2 separate regions of the Homo sapiens genome follow, and region 2 is linked to region 1. Evidence: fine-mapped expression QTL. A gene starts in region 1. The other region holds a variant in brackets. All regions are shown on one strand. Distances are from middle to middle. Region 1 holds the start of TIAM2 (TIAM Rac1 associated GEF 2). Region 2 overlaps TIAM2 (TIAM Rac1 associated GEF 2).

Region 1 (4,392 bases):
TGGGATTACAGGCATGAGCCACTGCGCCTGGCCTGCTCTTCCCATTTTCTTTTGTCTTTCTTACTAACCTAGTCAATCCCCCACTACTCCAAGTCCCGTTATAGTTAATAATTCTTTGTATTAAACTTTCACTGTTGAAATCATTGTGTAGCCTCTCTCTTGGTTGGACCCATATGTACACACGTGGGTGGTATGGGAGCTCAGACTCTGGTTACTTGGCTGTCAAGGGATGGTGTCTCACAAGAGGAGAGGAATTAGAGCCATCTGGGTTCTATATATTTTTTCAAGTTTGTACAACAAACATGTTACTTTTATAATCAGAAAAATATTTTAAAATAGTGCGAAAAATGCAATAAAAGAAGCAAGAAAAATAAACACATACCAGCACCCCCCCACCCCCCGTCTCAGTGTGGTAGGTGTGAGTCAGAAGTAAGAAGTAAATAAGTGTTGGCCGGGCGCCATGGCTCACACCCTAATCCCAACACTTTGGGAGGCTGTGGGCAGATCACTAGAGGTCAGGGGTTCGAGACCAGCCTGGCCAACATGGTGAAACTCCGTGTCTACTAACAGTACAGAAATTATCTGGGTGTGGCGGTGCATGCCTGTAGTCCCAGCTACTTGGGAGGCTGAGGCAGGATCACTTGAACCCGGGAGGTGGAGGTTGAGCGAGCTGAGATCGTGCCGCTGCACTCCAGCCTGGGCGACAGAGACAGACTCCATCTCAAAACAAAGCAAGCACCGCCCCCCCCCACCCCACCCACAAAACAGTAAATAAATGTCAAGGAAGAAAAGGTCTTTGGAGGTGATGCTTGAATTGAGCATGGAAGAGTGAGTGGAGTGGGAAGATATTTTCCTAGGCAGAGCCAAGTGCGCAAAGATGCAGACAAGACCAGGGGAGGGCCTACAGAGTGGGAGGGGCCAGTCACTACTAGTTCGGTGTGTACAGAGCCTGTGGTGGTTGAGGGTGGAGAGCAGGTCTGTCCGATCCCCGCAAAGCCTGGAGGCTTCCTTTTGATACTGGGTGTGTTGTGGGAAAGCTGATTTCATTTGTCTTTTTGACTCACAGTTCTCCACGGATCTCCCGTTACGGAGACTGGGTCGTATTCACGCACTGCACCTAACTGACCAGGGCCCTGGCTGCTGTGCTCTGAACTCCAGCACTGGGATTGTGCCCAACGCCACCCTTCCCACCTGGCCGCTCCCAGCCAAGGACTGGTGGCGGCATGGACACGAAGGCAGGCAGGTTCCGGGGAGAATCGGGATCCCCATGATGCGTAATTTTGGCTGAAGGGCTCACGGATGATCTTGCTGAGCTTTTCTTAGACTGCAGGGAGGCCGGGATGGGTGCTTCCCTCCCTCCTTCACTTGGGCTCTGATTTGCAGAAGGTCCGGCCCTCTCCAGCTCTCACGGCTCCCTCCTCATTTAGTTCCACGGCCATTTCCCCCAAGAAAACCCTCCGCATCTAGTCCTGAGTGGGCGCTGCTTCTCGTAGGACCCACCCTAACACATGGCCTGCATCTACCTTCCCTTCCCTCTCCTCTCCAGGGTGCAGCCTTTTTCAAGGCGAGGAGAGTGATTCCAGGCAGCTTTCATTCCTGGGTCTCCTTAGCTCCCTCGCCCTTCCCAGCATCTGGGCCCACTGGGCCACTCAGGCTTTTCTAATAAAAATCGCAGCTTTGGCCCAGTGCGGTGGCTCACGCCTGTAAGCCCAGCACTTTGGGAGGCCGAGGCGGGTGGATCACCTGAGGTCGGGAGTTCGAGACCAGCCTGACTAACATGATGAAACCCCCATCTCTACTAAAAATACAAAATTAGCCGGGCGTGGTGGCGCGTGCCTGTAGTCCCAGCTACTCGGGAGGCTGAGGCAGGAGAATCGCTTCAACCCAGGAGGCGGAGGTTGCGGTGAGCCGAGATCACGCCATTGCACTCCAGCCTGGGCAACAAGAGCGAAACTCAGTCTGAAAAAATAATAATAAAAATCGCAGCTTCTCCACCTGGAAAGTCCCAATTCGACTGGGTCTTGGAGTGCCGACTCGATTGCCATCTCCGCTGCGAAGCCATCTCCTCTCAGAAGGGGAAGGAGATGGAAAGTCTCTGCGGCCGCTGACCTCAGTTTTGCGTGCCTTTCCTCGGTGGGACCCGGGAAGAGCCGTCTTTAAATTCCTTGGGGAAGGGACGGGGTCGCACTGGCGCATCGCATCCCCGGTAGCGGGCAGAGCCCCCAGCTCACAGTGAGCGCGTGCTCGATGTTTCTTGAATTGTTTTATTTGTGTTGTTCCAAAGAAAGCGCGAGGGACATGGTCCGGGACCAGCCGGGAGCTGGCGCGGGGGTCCTGGGCCTGACGCTGGGCGGGGCTGGGGCGTGTCCGGGGCGGGGCGGGGCGGGAGGTGCGGTCGCGGCTCGGGCCTGGCAGGCGCTGCGCGCGGGGCTGGGGCAGCGGTAACCGTAACTGTGGCCGCGGCCGCCGCAGGCGCACAGCGCGCGTCCAAGTGGAGAACAAAGTGACCCCCAGAACTTCTCCAACTCCTCCCGGCGTTCCCGCGAGGGCCACGCGCCGAGGGTAGCGGAGGGCGGCGCGCGACCGGCCCCACCGAGCCCGGCGCGCGACCCGAGGTAAGGGGCGCCCGGGTGAGGGCGCAGGAGGGCGACGACCCGCGCTGGTTGGCGGCGGCTCCAGGTCCCCTGCGGGCGGGGCGGCGCGCGGCCGGCGGTCCCCTCCCTTCCCCTTTGTTGGCCGCCCCTCTCTGCCCCCGCTTTCCTGGGAGTCCCGCGGAAGGTCGCGGCTGCGGGGCGCGGCCTGGCACCCTCTCCCCGGAGGGCGGCAGCGTCCGGGCACAGCCTGGCACGGGGGACGAAGCACTTTCCAGAAGGCTCTGAAACTAGGTCCCCTGGTCCCCTCGCGCTGCGCGACACGCCAGGACCCACTTTCAGCCCCGGTCCCATCCCGGATGGGAGGAGGCGGCGCCCCGGCCTCCTGATACCGAGGTTCTCGCCCAAAGCCGAGCCGTGGGTGCCCGGAGGGGAGCGCCCGCTGCGCCCACGCCCGCCCGGCGACCTCGGAGCCTCAGAAAGGCGCTGCGGCGAAGCAGGATCCCAGGCGGTCGGCTCAGCGAGTGTAGACCGTGCGGTCCCTGCTCAGCCCCTCCGGCCTTTCCGAGCGCGGGAGCCATCCCGGACGGGCGCGGCTCCTGGGGGGGCTGAGGTGCCAAGTTTCTGTGAAAGCCGACACGTTGTGCCCCTAATGGATCCTATTTACCAAAAACAGTTCAGAAAGAAAAGAGTCCATTCTTCCAGCCATTCGTTGCTGACAGCCGCTGGAAAGGTCTGGGAGTAACATTGCACGAGGTATTTCTATCTTTAAGGAGCGGCGAAATTTAATATTGATGAGCTTGCATGCCGTTTTTTTAAAATAGACAAATAGGTTAACTTTATTTAAAGAGGGAGAAGGCTGCTTGATTCCAAAGATAATTTCATTCAGGGGGAGGTTTTCCTGCTTTTCTCTGCAGAATTCAGGCAAGAGGCCACTTGGTGACACTCCTCAGCCTCCTTGGGTAATGGTGAGACCTTTATTTACTATGCGATGAAGGGCCTGGGATTCTCTTCTCATGGTTATTCACACATTCTACCTTTTGCTCCCCAAATGATGCTGACCACCTTATTTTAACAGACAACACCGGCTATCTCCAGTTCTCTTTCCAATAGATTTAAGCCAGAGTGTCTCTAAAATCTTACCAAGTTTCGTACAGGTGCGGATCATATGCTATAAATGTTTCAGTCCTAGGCTCTGGATAAAAAAGTGTCCATGGTTTTATAATTTGGGCTTAACCAGTAGAACTTGTGTGTATACACTCTTAGAAGTATTTCCTGATGTGCTTAAGATTGTTATGTTTTAAAAATATAGTATCATGATTGGTGCAGTTTTGTAAGCAAACTTTTGTTCCACCGGATTTTACCTGCTCACTTTATAGGAAAATAAAACTTGTTGCTTTAGGGTGTCAGAGGTTTTTGTGTTGGGTAAATGTAAAAGAACATGGCAAGGTATAACTGAAGAAGAGTTTATTATTTACTGTGGCAAAACACGCCCCTAATGACCTCAGAATCAGCTTTCAACACCTTCACATACCATACTAAGATGCTTCATAATGTGGCACCTGCCTGCCTTTCCAGTTCCATCTACTGACTTTCCCCAGGCCTCCTGGCTCTCCCCCGCTTGCACACTGCCTGCTCTAGACACACCAAGCTACTCAGAAGTTGTTATTTCCAGACCATTGTTTGGAATGAATGAAATTCTGCTTACACTGTTCTTACTCCTCTTGCCCATCTGTCAATTACCCACGCATTCTTAATGTGTCAGTCAAATACCTTCTCTAGGAAGCTTTTCTTCCTTATC
Region 2 (4,392 bases), 230 kb after region 1:
TTCTGTGGGAGAAGAAAGCAGGAAGTTTGATTTCTCAGGCCAAACTAGCCTCAGTGTAAATACCATTTGCAGGTTCTTGCCTATTCTTCTTCTTATTTATTTATTTATTTTTGTTTTTTTGAGAGGGAGTCTCACTTTGTTGCCCAGGCTGGAGTGCAGTGGCGCGATCTTGGTTCACTGTAGCCTCTGCCTCCCGGGTTCAAGCAATTCTTATGCCTCAGCCTCCTCAGTACCTGGGACCACAGGTGCACGCCACCATGCCCAGCTAATTTTTGTATTTTTACTAGAGACGGGGTTTCACTATGTTAGCCAGGCTGGTCTCAAACTCCTGACCTCAGGTGATCCACACTCTTCAGCCTCCCAAAGTGTTGGGATTACAGGCGTGAGCCACCACACCCGGCCTGTTCTTGCCTATTCTTTGGGGAAGCCACCTCGACATGGGGTACACTCGGAGTAAGAACACATGGGTTGGGTGGGCGTGGCTCACGCCTGTAGTCCCAGCACTTTGGGAGGTTGAGGCTGGTGGATCACTTGAGGCCAGGAGCTCAAGACCAGCCTGGCCAACATGGTGTGACCCTATCTCTACTAAAAATACAAAAATTAGATAGGCATTGTGGCTCGTTCCTGTAATCCCAGCTACTCGGGAGGCTGAGGCATGAGAACTGCTTAAGCCCAGGAGGCAGAGGTTGCAGTGAGCCAAGACTGCACCACTGTACTCCAACCTGGATGACAGAGCAAGACTCTGTTTCAAAAACAAAAAACAAACAAAAAAAAAAAACACAAAAAAAACCATGGGTTTTTTGCCCTAAGTCTTACACTGAGGAGCCGTTTCTTCATCCTTGGGTAAGTTGTCAAACTTCCCTATCTGTGAAACTCAAGGGTCCGTCTGACCAGCTGTCCTGCCCTGATGTCTCTCCCTGTCTGTCTTTCTGCCTGAATGCCTGATCCAAAGCAGCTTTCTGCTAGATATCCCTTTTTATCCCCATGAATATGGAGAGCTGCTTAGAAGAAGAATCTTAGCAGAACCCTATTAGAATTTGCTTCGGTCGTTTATTGTCCTTCATGCATTTCATTGAAGCTAAAACCTGTAAGATTTTTGGAGGCTTCTCAGGTAATGGTATGCGAAGGTCAGGATGGTTAGATACCGTATTTCCAGATGCTCTCTGCTCTTTTATGCACTTACGTTATTTAGGAACTTATTTCAAGCAGACCATTTGAGAATCTGAGGAAAGCTATGGGTCCCCAGAAGATTGCTTATGCACATACGTTAGAAATTGCAGACAATTCCAGGGAGCTCCCCAGTCTTACGATGTTTATTCACAGCTTTCCCTGTTAGGAATTTATGAACCGTCAGTTTGTGATCCTTACTTTGAGTAAACATCTGAATAGCCTAGCCTGTGTCTTAATATTATTGATATTGCAGAATCAGTTATCAAGTACCTGCAATATGAACAGCACTGTGTTTATATAGTCAAGTGATATTTTGAACTTTGTTTTTATCTTAGTCTAATTGCTTGGGTGAGATTAGCTATTAATGCTTTATTTTTTTAATGTGCTAAGAGATGTTGAGGAACGTTAAATAAATAACAACCCCTAGATGGCAAATAAATTATTAGGTTGAGACCAGAATAGATTATATTGATGATGGTGGTTAGACATCCCCAGATTTTTTTTT[C/CT]TTTTTTTTTTTTTTTTTACTCTGCACTTCAATGGATGCAAACCCAGGTTGTTAAACACCAATCGCAGCATTACGTGCTGGGATGTTTTGGCATTTTGAAAGTTTTATTTTCTATCATTAGTGAACAAAATGGGTTTTTTTTTGGAGTAAGAATTTTAACATTTTGATCCCAAACCAAACTTTTATGGATCTCTTTAGTAAAATAAATAGCTGTCTGATGGACTAGGAGGGGTGTTTTTTATGCTCAGCGTAAGGGACGCTCAGGTGGCTGTGGCTCCTGTGTTCCCCGGCAAGGGCGTTGCCAGTGAATTTCACCCTTCCCCTTTCCATGTCAGCAAATTAGCTAAGCCCTTGTTGTCGTTCGCCCTTTTTCTTTTAAAGAAGTAATAGGCACAATTACTATCTAATTTTGGCTTGCCACTGTGTGGGTGCCTGGAATCTCATCCGATCTTTAATATTTACCCAGGGGGGTGGGTGTAGTGTCGCATTATTCATTCACTCATTAAATCCCCTTCACCGAGGCCTGCTCAGATGCTTGCCATTGTTCAAAGTTCTGAAATCGTCACCTGGCTGCCTTCTGTCAATATTCTTGCGTAGAGATTGTAGTCCAATGAAAACCTTGTACTGAGTGAAAGAAGATGTGTTTGAGTTTCAAGGCATTTTCTGTGCCTTTCATGACTCATAGCAGATTCTCACCTTGTGATAAAGTTCCGGCTCCACAGTGGTGGCTGCTTTTGCTTTTGCAAAAGTAAGTTGTGAGAAATTGTTCTGAGTCATTTTGCAATTTCCTCTATAGACTCAGCTAAGAGTAGATGTGTGTGTCATGAGTAGATGTGTCTGGAGTTGAGGGAGGAGGGGTCATGGAAAAACTCTGCCTGGAAGTGCTTCATCCAGGTACACATGATGGTATTTTCACCATCTCAAACACTAGCTTCTAACTGCTGAAGGTTAAGATGGGATCATTCGTTTTGTAAATCCGTCTCCTGCTGTCTTGATAATAACATGAAGAAAAGGGCAAGAAAAACATGGATGTGTCATTAGTATGGAAGGAAGGAGGAGAATGGAGGTTTGTTTTAAAGGCACCCCCAATTCTCTTTCCCTCTTTCATCCTTTCGTTGGTTCTTGCCCCTTCCACACCCCGACTGTGTTTGTTCAGCCTCCAGCGCATGCTGCCGCCTCTGCTATTCACCTGCCTTTGCGCTCTCTCATTCTTTGCTGCCACCTGAGTCCTCTGGTGTTTTCAGAAAACAGCTGGCAGAGGAGGAGGCTCTGAGATGTGCAGTTGCTTAGAAGGTTCTGGCCTGGCATCTGCACAGCGGGGATTTCATCACCAACTGCTCAGAAACCACAAATGCTGCATGCCTGGAGGAGTCCTGCCATCTTCCTACCTTGCATGCCACTCTCAGCTGGTTTTGGGATTTTCTATTTATTTGTTTGTTTGTTTGTTTGAGATGGGTCTCGCTCTGTCACCCAAGCTGGAGTGAAATGGTGCGATCTTGGCTGACTGCAACCTTTGCCTTCCAGGTTCAAGCAGTTCTCCCACCTCAGCCTCGCATGTAGCTGGGATTACAGGCATGCACAACTGCACACAGCTAATTTTTGTATTTTTGGTAGAGATGGGGTTTTGACATGTTGTCCAGGCTTGTCTCGAACTCCTGACTTCAGATGATCCACCCACCTCGGCCTCCCAAAGTGCTGGGATTACAGGCATGAGCCAATGCACTCAGCTGGGATTTTTAAGAGTTTATTCCCTTCTTGGTTCATTCAGGCATAGATAAAGGGCAGTCTGAGGGCCCGGGTGACACACCCATCAGGACAGGTTGGTGCTCTGCCTTCCTCTCATTTGAGCACCGAGGTCTTGAATTTGGGGCTTATACAGATGAGTTACCAAGATGGGGAAAGGTGGACCATCAAGCAGTAATACAACGTGAGGCTTACAGGTAACTTCTAAGTGTGGGGCTTTAAAGAAAGTCTCTGTTCACATTCTGTCACCCTCACTCTGTCTCTTCCATCTTTTTCTTGCCTGAGTGTCCTGGTTCTGCTGCCTTCTCTAGATCCCCAGCTCTTCTCACCACCAGGGATACCTGGCTTTGGTTCCCATGTATTTATTGATTTCTATTTTTAAGAAGTTTGATCAAAACTGTCAAGTTATTTATTGAAAATGATAGTTGTCTTAGTTTAAATCTTATTCCATTTCTGTTAGAAGTCAGTGTAGATTATAGAGTGGTAAAGTCTCAGATAAATACTTATATAAATAAAGATAGGTATTGTTCCATATAAGATTATCATTATTTTGAGAACCTGTTGATGAGGGTGCCAGATGTGACTGTTGCATTACTCAAATCCAGCAAAAAACACTGAACAAAAACCATAATTAAAGGGGCACACAGGGTATCTGTGCTCACTTTAAGGCAAGTAGCCCTTGGCAGTACCCCTGCTTAATTAAGGTTGCCAGGATATTAACATGTAATTGATGTTTTATATACTTATAACTTTCCTCCCAGAAGCTACAATTTTTTTGAAACCAGATTCCAAGCATTGTTTTAAGCCAATATTAGAAGAGAAAGTGTAGGGCTTTCTAAGCATGAAGAGGATGTGATTTCAGACGAAATCATAGCACCTGGACCCTGTCTCCCTGCCCCCATCCCATTCTTCATAAGCGATGAAAAGCATCTTTGATCCATGAAACCTGAAAAAGCAGCCATCAGTAGAAGTAA

What was found.
Region 2: its variant is fine-mapped to the expression of TIAM2 in whole blood (INTERVAL, PIP above 0.99).

Annotation. Positions count from the first base shown.
Region 1 is chr6:154,992,878-154,997,269 of GRCh38, forward strand. TIAM2 (TIAM Rac1 associated GEF 2) reads left to right here and starts at 2,438. Exons shown (of 27, transcript NM_012454.4): 1 at 2,438-2,615. RefSeq lists enhancers at 2,332-2,939, 2,940-3,545 and silencers at 2,386-2,525, 2,616-2,695.
Region 2 is chr6:155,221,852-155,226,243 of GRCh38, forward strand. The region is part of intron 15 of TIAM2 (TIAM Rac1 associated GEF 2); the gene reads left to right. Among named protein-coding and RNA genes, the nearest start is that of CLDN20, 40 kb to the right of the region's middle. RefSeq lists an enhancer at 1,903-3,102. The variant C/CT (reference allele first, on the strand shown) is at 1,676.